Linked DNA regions of Homo sapiens: region 2 is linked to region 1. Evidence: fine-mapped expression QTL. A gene starts in region 1. The other region holds a variant in brackets. All regions are shown on one strand. Distances are between the middles of the regions. Region 1 holds the start of XK (X-linked Kx blood group antigen, Kell and VPS13A binding protein). Region 2 overlaps LANCL3 (LanC like family member 3).

Evidence for each region.
Region 2: its variant is fine-mapped to the expression of XK in whole blood (TOPMed, PIP above 0.99).

What each region holds. Positions count from the first base shown.
Region 1 is chrX:37,681,275-37,691,277 of GRCh38, forward strand. XK (X-linked Kx blood group antigen, Kell and VPS13A binding protein) reads left to right here and starts at 4,517. Exons shown (of 3, transcript NM_021083.4): 1 at 4,517-4,932. The coding sequence starts at 4,688. It overlaps LANCL3 (LanC like family member 3), which reads left to right. Exons shown (of 5, transcript NM_001170331.2): 5 at 1-3,189. RefSeq lists a silencer at 4,259-4,638 and enhancers at 4,308-4,819, 4,820-5,329.
Region 2 is chrX:37,645,005-37,655,007 of GRCh38, forward strand. The region is part of intron 1 of LANCL3 (LanC like family member 3); the gene reads left to right. Among named protein-coding and RNA genes, the nearest start is that of XK, 36 kb to the right of the region's middle. The variant A/G (reference allele first, on the strand shown) is at 4,497.

The sequences.
Region 1 (10,003 bases):
TGAATGAGCTATTTTACATTTTTGTACTGAGTCTTCAAACTCTAGTGTGTATTTTATACTTACTATACATCTCCAGTCTCGAAGTAGCCACATTTCAAGTGTATAAGAGCTGCATGTGAGTTGGCTATTGTATTGGACAGTCCCATTCCTGTTTCCTAGTATTGATAAAGTCTTCCTACCTTCCTTCGTTGTTATGGGAGAAAATGTAAACAGAACCTGCCTATTACACGAGAGCTGCAATATTTCCCCAAATGCAGCCCAGCAGTACCATGAGCTGCCCTGTGGAAAAATTTAATCTGTGATTAAATAAGTTAGGAAAGTTTTATTATTTTACCCCCTTTTGAAGATTACATGGTACATTAACATATTAAAGATTGAGTAAACTCTCCTGGGTAAAAAAACCTGTTTGACGTTGTTTAGTTGTTGAGTTCTGTGTCTATAAGAATCCTAGAAATTGCCACAAGTGTCTCTCCATAAGAAAAACTTTGTGTTTTCCTCTCTTTCTCCACTCCTTTTGGGGCCCATTTCTATTTATCTTTGTATTCAGAATCACCCGAGAGCCACAATATCTCTTTTGTTCTAGAACAACCACCTCCTAAATTGAAACCAACAGATGGCTTTAAAGTCTTGCACTTGGACATAGATCTTCAGAAAGTACCAAAATATATACCTTCCTCTTATTCTTTCAGAAACGGTGAACACTCTAAAAAGATGTGGGGGTGTGGTGGGGGATATGTGAATGTGTATATGTGTAAACACCAAATACATACAGTTTCTTAAGTAGAGTAATGCAATTCTTGCTGATGTTTTATTTTTATTTTTATTTTTTTATTTTTTTTTTTTTTTGAGACGGAGTCTCGCTCTGTCGCCCAGGCTGGAGTGCAGTGGCGGGATCTCGGCTCGCTGCAAGCTCCGCCTCCCGGGTTCACGCCATTCTCCTGCCTCAGCCTCCCAAGTAGCTGGGACTACAGGCGCCCGCCACTACGCCCGGCTAATTTTTTGTATTTTTAGTAGAGACGGGGTTTCACCGTTTTAGCCGGGATGGTCTCGATCTCCTGACCTCGTGATCCGCCCGCCTCGGCCTCCCAATATTTTTATATTTTGTGTGTGGTGACAATGTACATGCTTTAATGTGTACTGTTCTAGTAATATGTATGAAGTAGCTGTGACATAGCAGTCAGTTTTAAAGATACAGACTATAATTGACTACTGTCAATCTTTAACAAGTGATCTTTTTGCAACTTGGTTTTAGTGGGGTCTCTGACGTTGTCCCCACAAGTTTCATTTTAAAATCTATGCTTAAGTGGCAGTTACCAATATAATTAATTCTGCTGCTGAATTTGGTTCATATTGAATGTGGTAACCCTTATATGTGGATATATTCAAACATGTGGATTGATTTAGATCATCCGTTTTGTCTTTGTTTTTTAGGACTTTGCTATTTCAATATTAAAGATGTCTTTTGAATACTGTAGCAGCAGTAGAATCCCTATGTTCTTGAAAATGCAAAATGTAACATGAGTTGCACATAGACTCTCTAGCAGTAGAAATGGAATATTCTAAGTGCAGAAGTTTGGTTTTAGAATCTGTTAAGGAAGGACGGCCCAATCTTTGAAAAGGTACAGCTTTCTCAACTTTGAACATCTGGGGGAACTCTTCTTGGAAGTCTGAATTTTAATATCTTTAATCCAATGGCTCTAAATTAACAAACATTAAAAAATGGATTTCGTAGAATCAAATTATTAGGGGGAGCACTTTGCAAAGCCATATACTGGTGAATATATACTGGGTCAAGCACCACATGTTAGTTTTGGAATGTGTATTTCCCAGCGAATAGAATTTACTGCTCCAAAAAGCTTTTTTGGCATAAATCACAATACTTACAGAAATATAATTGTATCATTGAAAAAAACAAAGCTCACCTTCCTAATGATACATTTCACAAACTGCACATTAGGGCAATTTCTTACTTATGAGGAGGTACAAAGAAATACTCTGTCAATATAGTATAACTGCTTATTTCAAATTGTATCTAGGAATGAATAACTACTATTATTTAAAGTACTACTGAATTTTGAGGAACTGATCAAAGAATTAGTATTATTAATAAAATTGTACTATTTGCAATATATTTGCCTTGGCACAAATGCAGAGTTAAAAACATAAAATTATAAAAAAAAATAATAGTGATTGGTTGTTACTACTTTAAAATCCTACTAATTTCCATTAGCACTAAATCAAACAGCACTTATCTGTTGTATACAAGTAAAATTTTGAAAGACTCGGACACAAAATGAAAGGCTTTTTAAAAATGTCTTTGCCATAACAGGTTATATGACCTCTTGCTAATTGTTATATTTCCTTAGGGGCACTTTGAGGCTCTTTCAAAGACATCTGCAGCAATTAGGTCTAAATTTAGAGTAGAATATTTTGCCAGATATTTTACTATATCACAAAATGTCATACTACTGTATTTTATAATAAAACCAAATTCTCAAGTATTCTGGTATGTTACATATTAATATACCAAAACATCACTTTCTATAAGTCTATTATTATGTACATAATATTTTTAAAAATAATGGGTATTTTGGTCCTAGTGAAAAAGTATAATGCAATACATGACATTAATCTTTAGTCAAAACCCATTGAGGTGTCTGACAGGGAAATTAGCAATCATAAGCTATAAGATATATATTATTTTCAAGGACAAAATGGCAAATGATAATACAGAAAGACGTGATCACTGGAGCAAGTTAGCTGGTGTGCAGACTAAGAAGGATCAACTTGCAAATGCTCATCAGAATTTAGCTTTTGTTATTGGTTGTTCTGCAGGGGATAGTACTAGTCAGTTGATATTGCTTCCCTTTCATGTGGGAGTTTGCTCACAGCCCACTGCATGGTATAATGAAATCTCTATAAGCAAGATAGAGTCAGAAGCTTAGAGATGCACTTTATGGTTTTTACAACTGCTGTTACAATGTTCTAAACACTGTGATCTTTCCAAATGTGTTTTCTGTATTCGTTTTGTACTGTAGAAAATAATTCGCTATAAACTGGACTTTATAGTGTTTAAAGCGATGTTATTTATTGGCTTATTGCCCCTCCTTATAATACATTTATGTACAGTACACTTAATGTAAAACCTGTGATAATCCTTTGCCTTAAAATAAAATCTAATGCTAAATATTCAGTGTCCTGATTAATAATTCTAAGCTACCAATTTTTCCTTTAAAGCTAACCATGATGTCAAGTAAAACATTACACAAATACTCTGTGGAGTGTTGCTGCTGATTCTGTATTTGTGGCAGTGTATGTATCTTGGCCCAGGACATGGTGGCCTTCTGGGTTCTATAAATAGACATTAGTAATCCTTTTAGGGAAAGGGCCTGCTACCTCTCAGCTGCTGGCTGAATCTGCCCCTTAACTCATAAATGGATTTTCTCATGCCACATAAAAAACAGAAAAACAGCCCACCACATTCTCTCCCTGTACCTCTTTTTTGGTTTGATTCCTTTTGAATCTTTATATTCTATTTGTGTTTACATTATTTTCCTAAATAGAAAAATGCCAGAGATGCCTGAAGATTGAAATCACCCAATTTCAACAGGGGAAGAGATCTTATAATTATTTAAGTCTAATCCCTTTATGGAACCTGAGTTTCAGAAAGATTTAGTGACTTGATCGAGGTCTGAGGGACGGGGGTGGACTGAGTACATCCTGATATCAAGAAGATGGTGGAAAGTTCAATGGGCTAAAAGGAGTTGTGTTAGTCTTGGTATTGGCACACCAATAAGCAGAGGTCTGTCTTGGAATAAAAAAAACTACTTCCTTATTAGGCCCTGATCTTTGCCCTGAATTACTTACAGTTACAGAGGAATATATTTTGTAGGCAGTTTTTCTGGGAGGTAAGGACAGGTTCCTAGAGACGATCTTTGACGCCTTTTCACCACTGGAAGCAATGCTTCAGACCACTGTATTTGGAAGACAAAGGGACATGCTCACATGGCACAGTGAAAAGTGAAATCTTTTCCCACTTGGTGGTGGGTGCATGACAATATACTTGCACTTTGAAAAGCCTCTGTGTGGTCTGGTTATTTTTAAAAGGCCAGAAATGCTGGCCCTTTGAAGAATCACGCGTTTCCTCGGCCCAGAAAATAGACTGGGCTAGAAAGGCGCCCGGACTCCAATTCTGGGCCCGGGTGGTTGCAGTTTTTCAAAGGGATGTGAACGGTTTCCCAAGATAGGACCCAAGGGACTCTAGGACCCAGAGGCTGCGCGCGACGCCCGCAGGGCGAACTGCATCCTTTTGAGCTCCCGCTCCATGGCCTGAGCCGTCGTAGGGCGCGGGTTCGCGGCCCGCCAGGGGACGGTCACCACAGAGACGCAGCCGGCACTGGCGAGCGAGCGAGCAGGCGGCGCACGGAGCGCGTGGGCGTGTCCCGGCGGGGCTGCGCAGCTCGCCCCACCCCACCCCACCCCAGCCAGGTCGGCCGCCCCCACCAGGTCCAGTTCCAGAGCCCAGGCCGGTCGGCCGGGCCCGCGTGCCCTCGGCGGGCTGCGCAGAGCGCGGGAGCGGTTTGGGGCTGGGCATGCTGGGAGCCCCTCGGGCAACGGCCGCCGCCGCCACAGCCACACAGCCGCCGCCACTGCGTCCGTCCCCGGTGAGCGCCGCTGACGCGCGGAGATGAAATTCCCGGCCTCGGTGCTGGCGTCCGTGTTCCTGTTCGTGGCCGAGACAACGGCGGCGCTCAGCCTGAGCAGCACCTACCGCTCGGGCGGGGACCGCATGTGGCAGGCGCTGACGTTGCTTTTCTCGCTACTGCCTTGCGCGCTCGTGCAGCTCACGCTTCTCTTCGTACACCGCGACCTCAGCCGCGACCGCCCGCTCGTACTGCTGCTGCACCTGCTGCAACTTGGGCCCCTTTTCAGGTGCGTGCAGAAGCCCAGAGCCAGCCCCAGGCCGCAGCCTCGGTCCTGTAGCCTGATCTCCCCACCTGCTCGAGTGGAGGGAGGCGGTTTTCCTGTGGAGACAGGTGGCTGAGCCCCAAGCCGGTCCGCCATGCCCCTCAGCCCCATTATTCCAGTCAGGAACGCGACGAATCATGGCATAATGGTTATAAAGTTGGGGCACACTGAATTCCTGTTAGGTTCCGTCAAATGAAATAGCCAACATTCAACTGAAATTGACCAACAAAAATGGCAGTTTCTTGTGGTTCAACCTCATTAAAGACATTGGTTTCTCTGGGGTCAAGTAGGCTCTGACAGGATTGGCTTGTGTTGTCACAAACCCTTGGGAAGTGTGTTCTAAGCTGTGGTTACGGGGACAGCATGTACAGGTGATTTAATTTTAATTTATCAAACACATGGAGCTTACTGTGTGCCAAGCACTGTTCTAAAAGCTTTAACAGTATTTAATTCTCATAGGGAAGTCAAGAAATCCATGCACCATTCTTTTCTCTTGGTGGCGTTACGAATATTATGGGATATGGAAACATATGGGGTTCTAGAAATGTCTTCCGGCCCTGGCAAACTTATAAACGTAGCCATTAAAGCTGGTGCACAATGCACCATGAAAACAAAACTTGCTGTGTGTTAAGTAAAGAAAAACTGTTGGTGACATTTCTGGAAATTAATTTTTATTAACACAAAGCAAGTAGAAATACATGGTAATAAAACAGACTGGCTTATCTAAGGAGTTTAAAATGTGTTGTTTTAGTACCTTTCATCACTATAGGAAAAGCAAAACAAAGGCCGTCCATTTGGATTAGAAATAAGTTTATAATACTGAATTTTAGACATAGGCGACAGAGGAATTTGAAGAGATGGAAAGGCCAGAGAGACACCTCAGCTGCCAGAAAATTCAGCTAGCCCTACCAGGAAATCTCTCTCTCTCTCTCTCTCTTTCTCTCTCTCTCTTACACACACACACACACACACACACACACACACGCACACACACACATTGAGGAGCAAGATAAATTTTACAAAGTTATAATTTTTTTTTTTTTGAGACAAGGTCTTGCTTTATCAGCCAGGCTGGAGTGCAGTAGCAAGATCATAGCTCATTGCATCCTCCACCTCCTGGGCACAAGTGATACTCCTGCCTCAGTCTCCAGAGTAGCTAGGACTGCAGGCAAGCGCCATCATGCCTGGCTAATTTTCTTTTTTCTTTCTTTTTTTTTGTATTTTTTGTAGAGACAGAGTCTCCCTATGTTGCCCAGGCTGGTCTCGAGCTCTTGAGTTCCAGTGATCCTCCTGTCTGGGCCTCCTAAAGTTCTCTCTATGTTGCCCAGTATGGTCTGGAACTCCTGAGCTGAAATGATCCTCCTGCCCAGGCCTCCCAAAGTGCTGGAATTACAGGCATGAGCTACCACGCCTGGCCATAAAATTTTTGCACCTCATATTAAAGAAAACTGTTCCAGCTGACACACAAACTACTGACTTGTAGTTTGCACACAGTCACAGCAAACTTGGTGAACAAATTTCTCAGCCTCCAGAAGCTGCAGAATCCTAGAAAGGAAAATAAACAGGTACACTGGCAGGAGTGGGAGGTTGCTGCTGACTTCTTGATAGCTGGGGAAGAGTCTGGGGAAAAAGAAAGGGAGGGAGGGGAATTTTAAAAGTCCTGCAACCTGGAGCCATTTAGTGAGGAGAGAGTTAGTCCTTCCTAGCCAGGTAAGCCCTGTGGTCTGGACTGTATTCTTGCTCAGTAAAATAAGTGTGATCTGACTTTGGGCAGGGCACTTATCATTTCTTTCTTTCTTTCTTTCTTTCTTTCTTTCTTTTTTTTTTTTTTTTTTTGAGACGGAGTCTTGCTCTGTCGCCCAGGCTGGAGTGCAGTGGCGCGATCTCAGCTCACTGCAAGCTCCGCTTCCCAGGTTCACGCCATTCTTCTGCCTCAGCCTCCTGAGTAGCTGGGACTACAGGCGCCCGCCACCACGCCCGGCTAATTTTATTTTTTTGTATTTTTAGTAGAGACGGGGTTTCACCGTGCCAGCCAGGATGGTCTCAATCTCTTGACCTCGTGATCCGCCTGCCTCGGCCTCCCAAAGTGCTGGGACCACAAGCGTGAGCCACCGTGCCCGGCCTTATCATTTCTTAACATTATCTGTGAGAAGAAAACAGATAATGTTTAAGTGGAGTAACAGGAAAAAGGGGAACTGACATTTCTCAAAAGCTTCTTGTGCTAGATGGTTTGATATGTACTTACATGCCTCAATTCATTGAATCCTCACCATGACATAGACGTAATTGTCCCCATTTTGTAGGTGAAGAAAATGAGGCCTCAGACTATGTTCTCAAGCCTCCTTAAAAAGAGCTAATTATATTCCCTATGCTCAGTGGAAGAAAGCAGAGGACTGTGTAGTACATTCTATTAGTAGTTCCATTTTAAATTAAGAAAAAGTTTGGTCATCTTGGCAATCCAATAAATGATAATACCCTATCATTGCTGCCATTTAAAGTGTTTCTAAACACGAAGAGTAACCCAAGACAAAGCTAATGACATAATATATATAAAAACAGGATGACAAGTATAAACCTGAACTCAAGGAAACATACCAAGATGTTAAGAATAATAATTTCTGAATAGTGGGGTTATGAGTGATAATATCCTGGAAAATATATAAAACTATATAATAAAACAATTATCTACTTTTCTATATTTTTCAGTTTTTACCATAAAAATATTTTAACTTTATTAAGGAAAGAAAACTTTTGGTGCTTTGAAGAGATAACTTCTCAGCTATATATAAAGTTTCAACACTATAAAAAGACCTATTTCCAGAAAGTTCTGAATGGGCCATTGTCTTCTTGGAGCAAAAACAAAATAAAAGATAAAAAACAAAACAACAGGCAAACCCCTTCCATCAACAAGGAGTCACTGATTCTAATGCAGCTGATTTATTTCAAGGAGTTATTGGACCCATGACCTTAGAGCTGAGATACAAAATGTGGTTCCAAGTCTCTTAGCTTCCAGATTAAAAGAAAAGCAGTTTGTTCTTGTGTATTAGCCTGACTTAATATCTTACTGGAATTTCTTCCTGCTGACTGTTTGATTCTGTTTTAACTCTAAGACATCAGCTTTACATAAAGATAAAAATTATTTCCCTCAAACAAAGGAGAGGCATGGTGATTCTTACCCCCTTCCTTATGGATTGGATTTAATAATATTTCTAAATTGTTTTTTGACAGTTTAACTCTTCTTGCCTTTGGATGAGTACTAGCCAAACTCGTGTTTTTGCTAGGTAGATGCTGCGTTTGAGTTCATGCAGCACGATGGCCCAGTTAAACTGCAATACATTACACTAATGATTCTGGACTAAATACTACTAACTAGGCTTTGCTCCTTCTTTCCTTTAGGGAGGCATAGGGAGAGCACCATATTTCATTTGTATCAGTCTTGTATTTAAAATGGTAGTTACAGTTTTTATGATTGTTTTCACATTAAGCCTGAGTTTGAATGATACGAACTTTGGATAATGCCTTGAATTTATTTATAATTTTAAGGAAAATCTTATTGCGCATTATAATAGATACTCTAGCAAACCAGAGCAGGGAAAAGATCTCTTACCTAAAACACAAAAACATTTTAAAAATTCTGTTTATCATTCTTTTACATTTATGCTAATTTTTATAAATTAATTGGGAGGAATAAATATAAATGAGTTACAATTTCAAGGAATTCCCCTCATTTCTTTTTTATTACTGGTATAGTGAGGAAAAAATGGTACATGAAAAATCTGAGCTTATAAAATAAAGGCTAAGAAGTTCCCGAAACCTTTCCAGAACATTGCAAAATGATTCACCATAGTATATCTTTCTATATTAAACTTTATAAAGAATTTAAAATATTAATAGTCTACATTTGAAGAGAATTTTTTTTTCATTTGCAAGGTGCTTTTACATACAGTATTTAATTTCATCCATGGTAAAACCCTGTGAGTTAACTGTCATTATCTTATTTTTACAGTCCAGGAATTGAGGTTCAGTGAGATTAAGCAAGTGGCTTTTCAAAGGTTTTGCAGCATTTTCTATTTAACCAATTTGGGTTTTGTGTAGGCTTACAGAGCATGTGTGTCATGTGAAGATAATGTGGCTTATTGGAAATTATAGTATTTCTTTGGAAAAAGTATTTTAATTAGGGTCTCTGGTACCACAGATTATTTATGCTCACATCAGCATGCATGATTTCAGCTAAGGAATAAGCTCCTTCTGCTATGATACTTGAAAAGTGGGATATATGATGCTTGAAAATGGGATAAAGTAAAAAATAAGGATCAACCTACTGATTATCTACATTGGGGTTAGCAAACTGTACCCCACAGGCCTAATACCCCCATCACCTGTTTTAGTAGGTAAAGTCTTATTGGAACACAGCGTTGCTCACTGGTTTATGTACTGGCTACAACTGCTTTCACATTGCAGAGACAGACTTGAGCAGTTGCAACAGAGACCATGGCGTGTGAATCATAAAATATTTACTTTTTTATAAATACTTCACAGAAAATTTGCTGTCCCTTGGTGTAGATGATACTGAAAAACTACCTTGAGTATTCAGTTTTGATAAAAGTATCTAATTTCTGGCTTTATTTAGACCTCTCAAGCAACAAACAAATAAAAAACCAAAAAATAAGAACAGATTTTGAGTAATTAGATGAGTCTTGCAGAATTCCAAGAATAGTAGTTTGTTTCTTATCAGTTTTCCTAACCAACAGTGGCAGGAGGTCTTGGGGCCTTTTACAAATGTATTAAACACCTATGACTACATGTAAAACTCTATGCTAATACAAATGTATCACCTGGGAAAAAACAGTGGCTTACAAGAGGTTCCGCCTGAGCTTTAGGACCTTCTTTCATTTCCATCAACTGATCATGGAAGTTTTACTTTGTCTACAATTCTGCAGAAAGCTTCCAGTTTCATATAGCCCCTTCCTTCGCATCAAGAAAATTACTTTCTCCTCTGAACCCTCATTTCGTTCATTCAGTTCTTAGCATATGC
Region 2 (10,003 bases), 36 kb before region 1:
GCAAACGTAATCCTGTTTTTGTAGATAAGGAAGCTTGTGCTCTGAGACATTTAGTGTCTTAGAAGAAAGAGAATAAAATCATCTAGTGACAGTTGGTGCAGACTGGGTTACCAGCTACTTCTGATAAATCTTTAAAGCCAGCAGTCAGGCTGTAAGAATGGGGTAAAACCTGTTTTTCTTTTCTGGTTTCTAGTGTTTTCTGGGTTTATGTTTCTTCACATGAGAAGGGAAAAGAAACAACTGTGAAATGGTACCTGGGACCAAATGTTTATAACTGAAATTCCATGCTGAATCCCTTTAATGACTGGAGGATAATCATCAACTAGAGCAACCTGCTTCCTATTCCTCATAGCCCAGCATAATAATGATCAGGGAGCATCAGGAAAACCAGATGGAAGGGACTTGCTCATTCTGCACCAGCACACATGCCCCATTTAGAGACCAGTTAAGAAAATAACAAACCTGGCCACACTGGCTAAAAGAGCTCCTCAGTGGAGCATGCAAATATGGACATGTCTGTCTTACATGCAGAATATTGGAAGAGAATTTCTTATCGTTGCTGTGTCCCTTTTCTGGGTAATCTAATCATTTAAATGATAATATGCAACACTTTTGCTTGATGCTTCCTCTCGCTGCCTTGAATGTCGTTGGGAACTTCTATTGTTCCTTCGGTCTAACTTCTCACCTTTTCCAAAAGAAATCCTCTGCTGCAACCAGCCTCTCTATTTTCATAATCCTTTGCTACTTCAAGTGTGGTTGATGAACCAGCAGTGTCAGCCTCAGCATCACTACTGTTGTAACAAGGAGCTTGTTAGTAACAGAATCCTGGCCCCATCCTAGACCTACCGAATTAGAATCTTTGTTTTTTATCAAGAGCCCCAAGTAATGTGTGTGCACCTTGAGGTTTTTGAAGCATTGCCCCAATACACAGGACTCTCCCCATCATCCAATAAGTTAAAAATGCTCTCTTCCCCATGCTTTCATTTACCCACTTCCTACTTGTCCTTCAAAGCTCAGCTCATATTCCTCTTCCTCTATGAAGCCAATATTTACTCCATTCACGTTACTCCTTTACAGTACTACTTTTAGGATTTAAATGAATGCTGAATATTTCATTATTTAAATGTTTTGCATGTCTACTTAGTCTCATTATTAAGATTCCATGTTTCTCCAACCTAGCATAGGCTTTGCACATAATACTCATGAATTATTCAGTTTGTCAAGATCAGTTTCCTACTTGAAGGTTTTTCTTAAGCCCTATTTTGTATCTTTAAGCTTGCTCAACACCTTTTCTGCTCATGATGTTCTCTGGAGGTCACTATGCACTGTAAGAGTGCTCATGATGTTCTTCCTCAAAGAAGCTCCTCCAAGTTTCTGTCTTCTCAATACCTTAAGTAAATCTTTATCTGCTACAGAGATTTCCTGAAAGGCCTGGCTCTTTCTTGTAACCTAGTGGATTCCAAGTGAACTACAACCCCAAAGAGATATAGGAAGTAAAAATTTAACCACTTGTGAATATTGACTTTGTATAAACAATTTCTCTAACTTTTTAATTTGAAATAATTTGGACTGGGAATTTTAAAAAATAAGTTTAATTTTGGAGATGAGATGTTTTACTACTCTGTTCTGGTGCCCATAGGAAACTCAGGATCATCTTCTGCTGTTTCATGTGGGACAGGCCACGTGGTGGTATCTCTTTTGCTGGTCCCAGACCCTGAAGCAAGAGACACACCTCTGAGGCTGCCATCTTCCTGAGTTCCAGGCAAAAGGGAGGCACATATCCTAACAAACTGTAGATCCTCAAACCTGTCTGGAGGCCTGTTGTAAGACTCCTAAGGCTTGGCATGATGGGATGGAGGTAGGAAAGCAGGAACACCACACTCACACTGACTTTCAACTTCTGGTTTCTTTTCTATGTCAACTCATCCCACCTTGAACAGCTTGTATCTCCATCCTGAGTTTATTCGGAACTATCCTTCAAATCCATTGTTTTATGGTATCAATTTTAAGTATTAAAAATACCCAGGAGGCTGGGTGTGGTGGCTCACACCTGTAATCCCAGCACTTTGGGAGGCCGAGGCGGGCAGATCACGAGGTCAGGAAATCGAGACCATCCTGGCTAAGAGGGTGCAACCCCGTCTCTACTAAAAATACAAAAAATTAGCCAGGCGTGGTGGCAGGCGCCTGTAGTCCCATCTACTTGGGAGGCTGAGGCAGGAGAATGGCATGAACCTGGGAGACAGAGCTTGCAGTGAGCTGAGATCATGCCACTGCACTCCAGCCTGGGCGACAGGGCAAGACTTCATCAAAAAAACAAAAAAACAAAAAAACAAAACAAAACCCAGGATCTAACAACCCAAAAACTTTTTTCTTTATTGTTCATGCGTATCAAAAGTCATTTGTCTCATTCCAGTAGCTCTAACTTTAAAAAAAGACATACAAAAAAGTCATTTTGATGTTTATTGGGTAGTCAGATGGCTTCTTTCTCTAGGCAGAAGCCTATCCTACCAACAGGATGATGAGGCAAAGGATTGGGTGAAATAAATTGCTGGGTGAAAACATTAAGTTAATATCAGATTCTTACTCTGTTACATATATGTTTGCTATGATATCAGAGTGACCCTGCATTCTATGCAGATGGGCACTCAGGGCATTTTGGACTCTTGCATGATAATGTTGGTGGTGCTTGAGCAAGGCCTAGGGTGGGAAGTCTAGCACCTCCTTACAGTTGTTTCAGATTCTGTAAGGATTGCCTGTCAGGTCAGACTTAGAACTGTACTTCTGCACTAATAATTCATTGTCACCTTAAGACGCATACTCCGTATATTGTAAAAATGTTTCCTTGGGCTCTACCCACTTCCAAAAACGTGTTTGGGGTGGTTTACAACAAAAATTCACAAATACAGTGAAACCATTAACCATTCAACATGGATTAAGGTTTAAGAGGTAAAATGTTTATAGCAAAACCCCTAGGGTAAAGGAAGTTTCTGCACTAAGCACAGGAATTAACTCTGCCTTTTGGCCCTCAAGACTAAGACAAACTCTCACTTCACTTTGTTAGGTGGGCTATGAGGGTAGCTTATCACTTAGGCCTTCATACAGAGGCGTTAGAAAACTGTGAACAATATCTTCAACAGCAGTTTTACAAAACTTGTCTTTTTTTAAAAAATCAACCTTTCCTTTATATAGAAACCAAAGCCACGATAGTCATAGTTAGAAAAAATAATCTGTGGAAAGCCAGATTTGTATACTCCAGATATACAGTGTTGTCAGGACCTAACCTAATATTGGGAAATTTAAATAATTTATAGCTAATGTATCTTAAGCCAGTGCTTCTCAAACTTTCATGGGCATATGCTACCATCTGGTGATCTTTTTAAAATTCAGTTTCTTGGCTAGCCATGTGCAGAAAACAGAAACTGTACCCCTTCCTTACACCTTATACAAAAATTAACTCAAGATGGATTAAAGACTTAAATGTAAAACCCAAAACCATAAAAACCCTAGAAGAAAACCTAGACAATACCATTCATGACACAGGCATGGGCAAAGACTTCATGACGAAAACGCCAAAAGCAATTGCAACAAAAGCCAAAATTGACAAATGGGATCTAATTAAACTAAAGAGCTTCTGCACAGCAAAAGAAACTTTCATCAGAGTGAACAGGTGACATACGGAATGGGAGAAAATTTTTGCAATCTACTCATCTGACAAAGGTCTAATATCCAGAATTTACAAGGAACTTAAACAAATTTACAAGAAAAAAACAACCCTACAAAAAGTGGGCAAAGATCTGAACAGACACTTCTCAAAAGAAGACATTTACATGGCCAAAAAACATGAAAAAAATTTCAACATCACTGATCATTAGAGAAATGCAAATCAAAACCACAATGAGACACCATCTCATGCCAGTCAGAATGGCAATTATTAAAAAGTCAAGAAACAATAGATGCTGGTGAGGCTGTGGAGAAATAGGAAGACTTTTACACTGTTGGTGGGAGTGTAAATTAGTTCAACCATTGTGTAAGATAGTATGGTGATTCCTCAGGGATCTAGAACCAGAAATACCATTTGACCCAGTAATCCCATTACTGGGTATATACCCAAAGGAATATAAATTATTCTACTATAAAGACACATGCACATGTATGTTTATTGCAGCACTATTTACAATAGCAAAGTCATGGAAACAACCCAAATGCCCATCAATGATAGACTGGATAAAGAAAATGTAGCACATATATACCACGGAATATTATGCAGCCATAAAAAGGAATGAGATCATGTCCTTTGCAGGGACATGAATGAAGCTGGAAGGCATCATCCTCAGCAAACTAACACAGGAACAGAAAACCAAACACTGCATGTTCTCACTCATAAGTGGGAGTTGAACAATGAGAACACATGGACACAGGGAGAGGAACAACACACACCAGGTCCTGTTGGGGGATGGGGGGCATGGGGAGGGAACTTAGAGGACAGGTCAATAGGT[A/G]CAGCAAACCACCATGACACACGTATACCTATGTAACAAACCTGCACATTCTGCACATGTATCCCAGAACTTAAAGTAAAATAAAACAATAAAAAATAAATTAAAACAAATAAAATTCAGTTTCTAATTCACTGGGTCTGGGCTGGGGCCTGGGAATTTGAATTTCTATCAGGATACCTTTACTGCTGGTCCATGGACCACACTTTGAGGAGCATATACCTCTTAGAGATATCAGAGGTCTCAAATGGGCAATTGACAGAAGTTTGAGGACAGATAATTTAAGACTGGACAGATAATTCTGAGTCCTCCATGACTCACACCAAAGGCATTTCTTTATACCTGGGAGTTCTTTTGCTAGTTTTCCCTTTAGCCCTCGTCTTCATCATTATTATTATATTGTATTATATTATTATTACTTTGGTTTTAAGAACTATTTTTGCACTCACTTAGTATTTTATGGCAGTAGTTCTCAACCTTGACCACTCTTTGTAATCCACTGGGGAGCTTAAAAAAGATCCCGGCCAGGCGTGGTGGTTCACGCCTGTAATCCCACCACTTTGGGAGGCCAAGGTGGGCAGATCGCCCGAGGTCAGGAATTCGAGACCAGCCTGGCCAACATGGTGAAACCCCGTCTCTGCTAAAAACACAAAAAATTAGCCAGGTGTGGTGGTGGGCACCTGTAATCCCAGTGACTCAGGAGGCTGAGGCAGAAGAATTGCTTTAATCCAGGAGGTGGAGGTTGCAGTGAGCCAAGATCGTGCCACTGCACTCCAGCCTGGGTGACTGAGTGAAACTCCATCTCAGGGAAAAAAAAAAAAAAAAGCCCCAATGCCGGGTCCCATGCCCAGAAGAGTCTTAGCATGTACCTTATCATGCACCATAGATGCAGGTATCTTTGTTATTTTGAGTGAAAGGATCTAGTATGGTAGGTAGGAAAACTGATGTGTTTATGTGAGGGATGAAACGACAAATGAAAGGTTTGGCTTTATATTCATATCTATTCTAGTTAGGCTCTTTTTGCAAGAAACTGAGACTCTCAAATGACTAAAAAGAAAGGGCGGAGTATGGGGGTGGGTATTGTATGGAAAATTGGTAGGAAGCCCTAAAGGGAGTAGCCCTAAACTGTTAGGAAGAGGGAGCTATAAGGACGAGCTACTTTTCTTTAACTTTCTCTCTTGGTATCATTGTTTCTTTTAGCATATCTGCTGCAGTCTCCTTTCACTCTCTTTTTTTTTTCTCTTTTTTTTTATTATTATACTTTAAGTTCTAGGGTACATGTGCACAATGTGCAGGTTCGTTACATATGTATACATGTGCCATGTTGGTGTGCTGCACCCATTAACTTGTCATTTATATCTCCTAATGCTATCCCTCCTCCCTCCCCCCACCCCACGACAGGCCCCAGTGTGTGATGTTCCCCACCTTGTGTCCAGGTGTTCTCATTGTTCAATTTCCACCTATGAATGAGAACATGTGGTGTTTGGTTTTCTGTCCTTGAGATAGTTTGCTCAGAATGATGGTTTCCAGCTTCATCCATGGCCCTACAAAGGACAAGAACTCATCCTTTTTTATGGCTGCATAGTATTCCATGGTGTATATATGCCACATTTTCTTAATCCAGTCTATCACTGATGGACATTTGGGTTGGTTCCAAGTCTTTACTATTGTGAATAGTGCAGCAAGAAACATACATGTGCATGTGTCTTTACGGCAGCATGATTTATAATCCTTTGGGTGTATACCCAGTAATGGGATGGCTGGGTCAAATGGTATTTCTAGTTCTAGATCTTTAAGGAATCGCCACACTGTCTTCCACAATGAAAAAAACCATTATTTAAAAAATTAATTATTTTATCTGTGCGGTTATGCCTTTAACTTGACATGCAGTTAAATTTGTTTCATTTTATGACTTTTTAAAGTCTTTAGAGTTGGCAATTTTGTTATTCTTTATAGTTAAGTTTATGTTTTTTAACTAATTAAAAGACTTACCAATATTAGAAAATAGAAATAATGTGAATATGCACACTCACATTCTTTTTATTTGTGTCCTTTTTCCTAATCCCTCTTTACTGATATAATAAACTTTCTTTTTCTGGTTTTTGCAAGTTTTTTTTTTTATACTTTAAGTTCTAGGGTACATGTGCACAATGTGCAGGTTTGTTACATATGTATACATGCGCCATGCTGGTGTGCTGCACTCATTAACTCGTCATTTACATTAGGTATATCTCCTAATGCTATCCCTCCTCCCTCCCCCAACCCCATGACAGGCCCCAGTGTGTGATGTTCCCCTTCCTGTGTCCAGGTGTTCTCATTGTTCAATTCCCACCTATGAGTGAGAACATGTGGTGTTTGGTCAGTCTCCTTTCACTCTCACTGCTGGTCAGTCTCCTTTCACTCTCACTGCTGGGTGGTTTATTCTGTTTTTCTCCATCACAGCCCCTGCTTACTCCCTGTTGACCTCAGTTTATGCATGGACCCATTCCTGACCTGTCTTCAGCAGCAGCTGGGATTGCTGACAGCTTCATTTTTTTTTTTTTTGAACATGCATTTCAAATTGTTGAGAGGAGGAATTTGATTGGCATTGTATGCCTTAGGACACTGGCACACCCAAGACTTAGTTGCTATTCGCATATTCAGTCAGTGCTGATGGGGGAGGGGCAGGAGGTGTTTGATGCCTAGAAAAAGAAATACAGCTAGCAAAGACTGCCACTTCCTGTAGGTAGGACTCTTGCCTTGGGAAGGAGTCAGTGGTGAGGCCAGCATTCTGTGGTTTGGTCCTTTTTATTGACTTTTTTTTTTCAAAGAAAGTCATCTCTCCTCTGCATGGAGGTAGTTCAGTCATAGCATGACTTTCAGGCAGGGCCAAGAAATATAGTATGAGCTTTATTGCCCTCTTGTCTCTTCATACTCAGGCCAAACCAATAGGAATATTTCACAAGGTCAGTAAAGTGAATCAGTTAAACTAAACAAAACGGTTTAAACCAAACCACCTCAGATTTGCTTCGTATTTTTGAAATATCTTAATTTATTTTAATTCAATGTAAAAAGAAAAGAATCTATTCCATCCAAAATATCAACAAATGCATTGATCTTAGGGGCTACAACTACAGGAGAGGGAATAATTTGGGTTTGTTTGGTGAAGGCCTGATGGCCAGGGAGCCCCGCTCTGCCATTCCTAGTCATTTTTGTTCCCCCACCGGAAATGCTGCTCCCTCATTCCCAGGATCTCAGAGTGTCTCAAAAGCACAGAGGCCATCTTTGGAGGCAGTGGGTGTGCTCATGCTTGTGCTCCTGTGTACTAGGGGCAGAGAGTGGAGGGATATTTGAGAAAGCAGACACAGGAGAACAAGCTCAAGCCCTTACCCCAGAATCTCAACTCCCTTCTTCTTTCTGTACTGTTTGTTCGGGGGCGAAAAATACTCTTCCTCAGTGTTCCCCACACACAGGCTTTTAATGAACTCTGTTTTTAGTTTTTATTTGCTGATCAGTAAACTGAGGGTAGGTCTTGTCTGTTCCCAGAGATAAAGAACTGCATGCATAACTGGTCTCTATCCAGCCGAACAAGCGCCGGTTTCTCTTTGTTTTTCACAGTGTTTCTGAGAGATAAGAGGAAACCACCCAGACATGATACATGACCATGGGAGGTTTTGAAATAATATTTTATAAACTCATTCCCTATTCTAAGCTGTGGATTCGGGATAGAAAGAAAGGGGGAGGGCACCACATATAGTGTAAGTTGATTTTTTTCTGGGTTAAAAATAAGCAGGCAAACACACACGTACACAGACATGCACACACACACACACACAACATATGAATAAATGTTCAGCTGGGGAAATAAGCCAATTTTCAGTTATAGGCATGAAAGTCAAATAGGAAAAATTTTAGTAGTGCAAATGAATACATCCCTGAAAATTCAGTGACTGTTTCCTACCACAAAAACTTCCTCTGTCATATGGATTCAAAATCAATATTGAGCAGAGCCAGATATATTCCCAGAAGACTATGGGATTCAATCAGGATAGAGTCCAATTAAGTGCATGCCCTTCAGGGCTTTTAGCAGGTTTCTGAGAAAGAGGGGTTGATTTGAGACAAATGATGATGCAAGATTTTAAGTAGTGTAAGACTAAACTTAAGATCAGTTGGCACTGATAAAGACACAAAGAGTAAATGTTTTCAATACCAAATGAAAATTATGGTAGCAATTTGAATGGTTGTATTTAATCATTTAGGAGAAATTTGCTATTAAGCTAAGGAAAGAAGACTTGGGGCTGATATGATAGGACAGTGGGGATGCAGCATAGGAAGATAGGGTCTTCAGGAATGTTAGGAGGAGTACACTTAAGAGACAGAGAGAGTGGTTAATAAAAGGGAAATTTAAGTTGAAAGCCATGACATCATTATTTCAGCAAATAGAAAAAAAAAAAAGAGAATGTAGTCTTACTGAAGCCGAGTCCATCTTACCTACTCTGCATTACTGTTTCTTTCTATCTCTAGGCTCATGAGCTTTAGTTGCTCTATTGTAGACTCTTGTCTATATCTCATCTCCAGTGCTGGATGGTAACTTGCCTGTAGGGAAAAAATATGTCTCATGGTTTCTCAAATTTCTCCACAACACCTAGTGTGGGACCTTACTGGAATAGTAGCTCAATAAATGTTAATTGGCAGAATTAATTAATGAATGGTATCCTCATGAAGTAATTATTTTTCCAAATTAAATGCTAGATTTTGGGAAACCAAAGCTGGATTATATTTTTTCCTTCTAATACCAGGTAAATCAGAGGAGCAATTTATGAATAAATCATTAGAAACTTATTTCAAAAGGAATTGGCTGGTCTAATGCTGGATATTGGGTAGGAAAATTAAATGTGTCAGTTTTAGGAGAGAGGCCAAAATCCAACGGACTTTTTATTGATCCCAGATTCATTCAATCAGACTAAACTTAGATGTTTTTTAGTTTTGGTTAATCTGACCAGTACGTTTCCTGTGCAGGTCTACCTTTTGGGAAGATTGGCTTCATGAGAGCACAGGTTCTGTCTATCTTGCTCACTGTCATATCTCCAGCATCCAGAACAGTCTTGCCTGGAATGTAGTAGAGGCTTAAGAAACAATCGTGGAGCGGAGGGAAAGAGAGGGACGGAGGAAGCGAATAAAGAATGAAGGGAGGGAGGGCTCTGAATTTCATACCAGTTAAACTGTCACTTATTTACTCACTCATCGGTTGTGAAGGACCCCCCTCAGACTCTGTGTTAGGCACCAAGGATACCAAAATTATGAGGTGCCACAGTGTTTGCTCTCAAAGAACTGATAGTCTAGTGAGAGAGAAAGAGAGAGCTCTAACACAACAGAGAGAGATCTAACACAACAGTGCTGTGCAGCAGAGCAAATGTCACTGTCATAAAGGGAGTGTGCCAAAGGGAACATCTAATTTGTCCCAGGAAGGGCAGGATGCAAAACATATGGCTAACCTGAGCAGAATCTTAATAAATGCAATGATGCTTTGA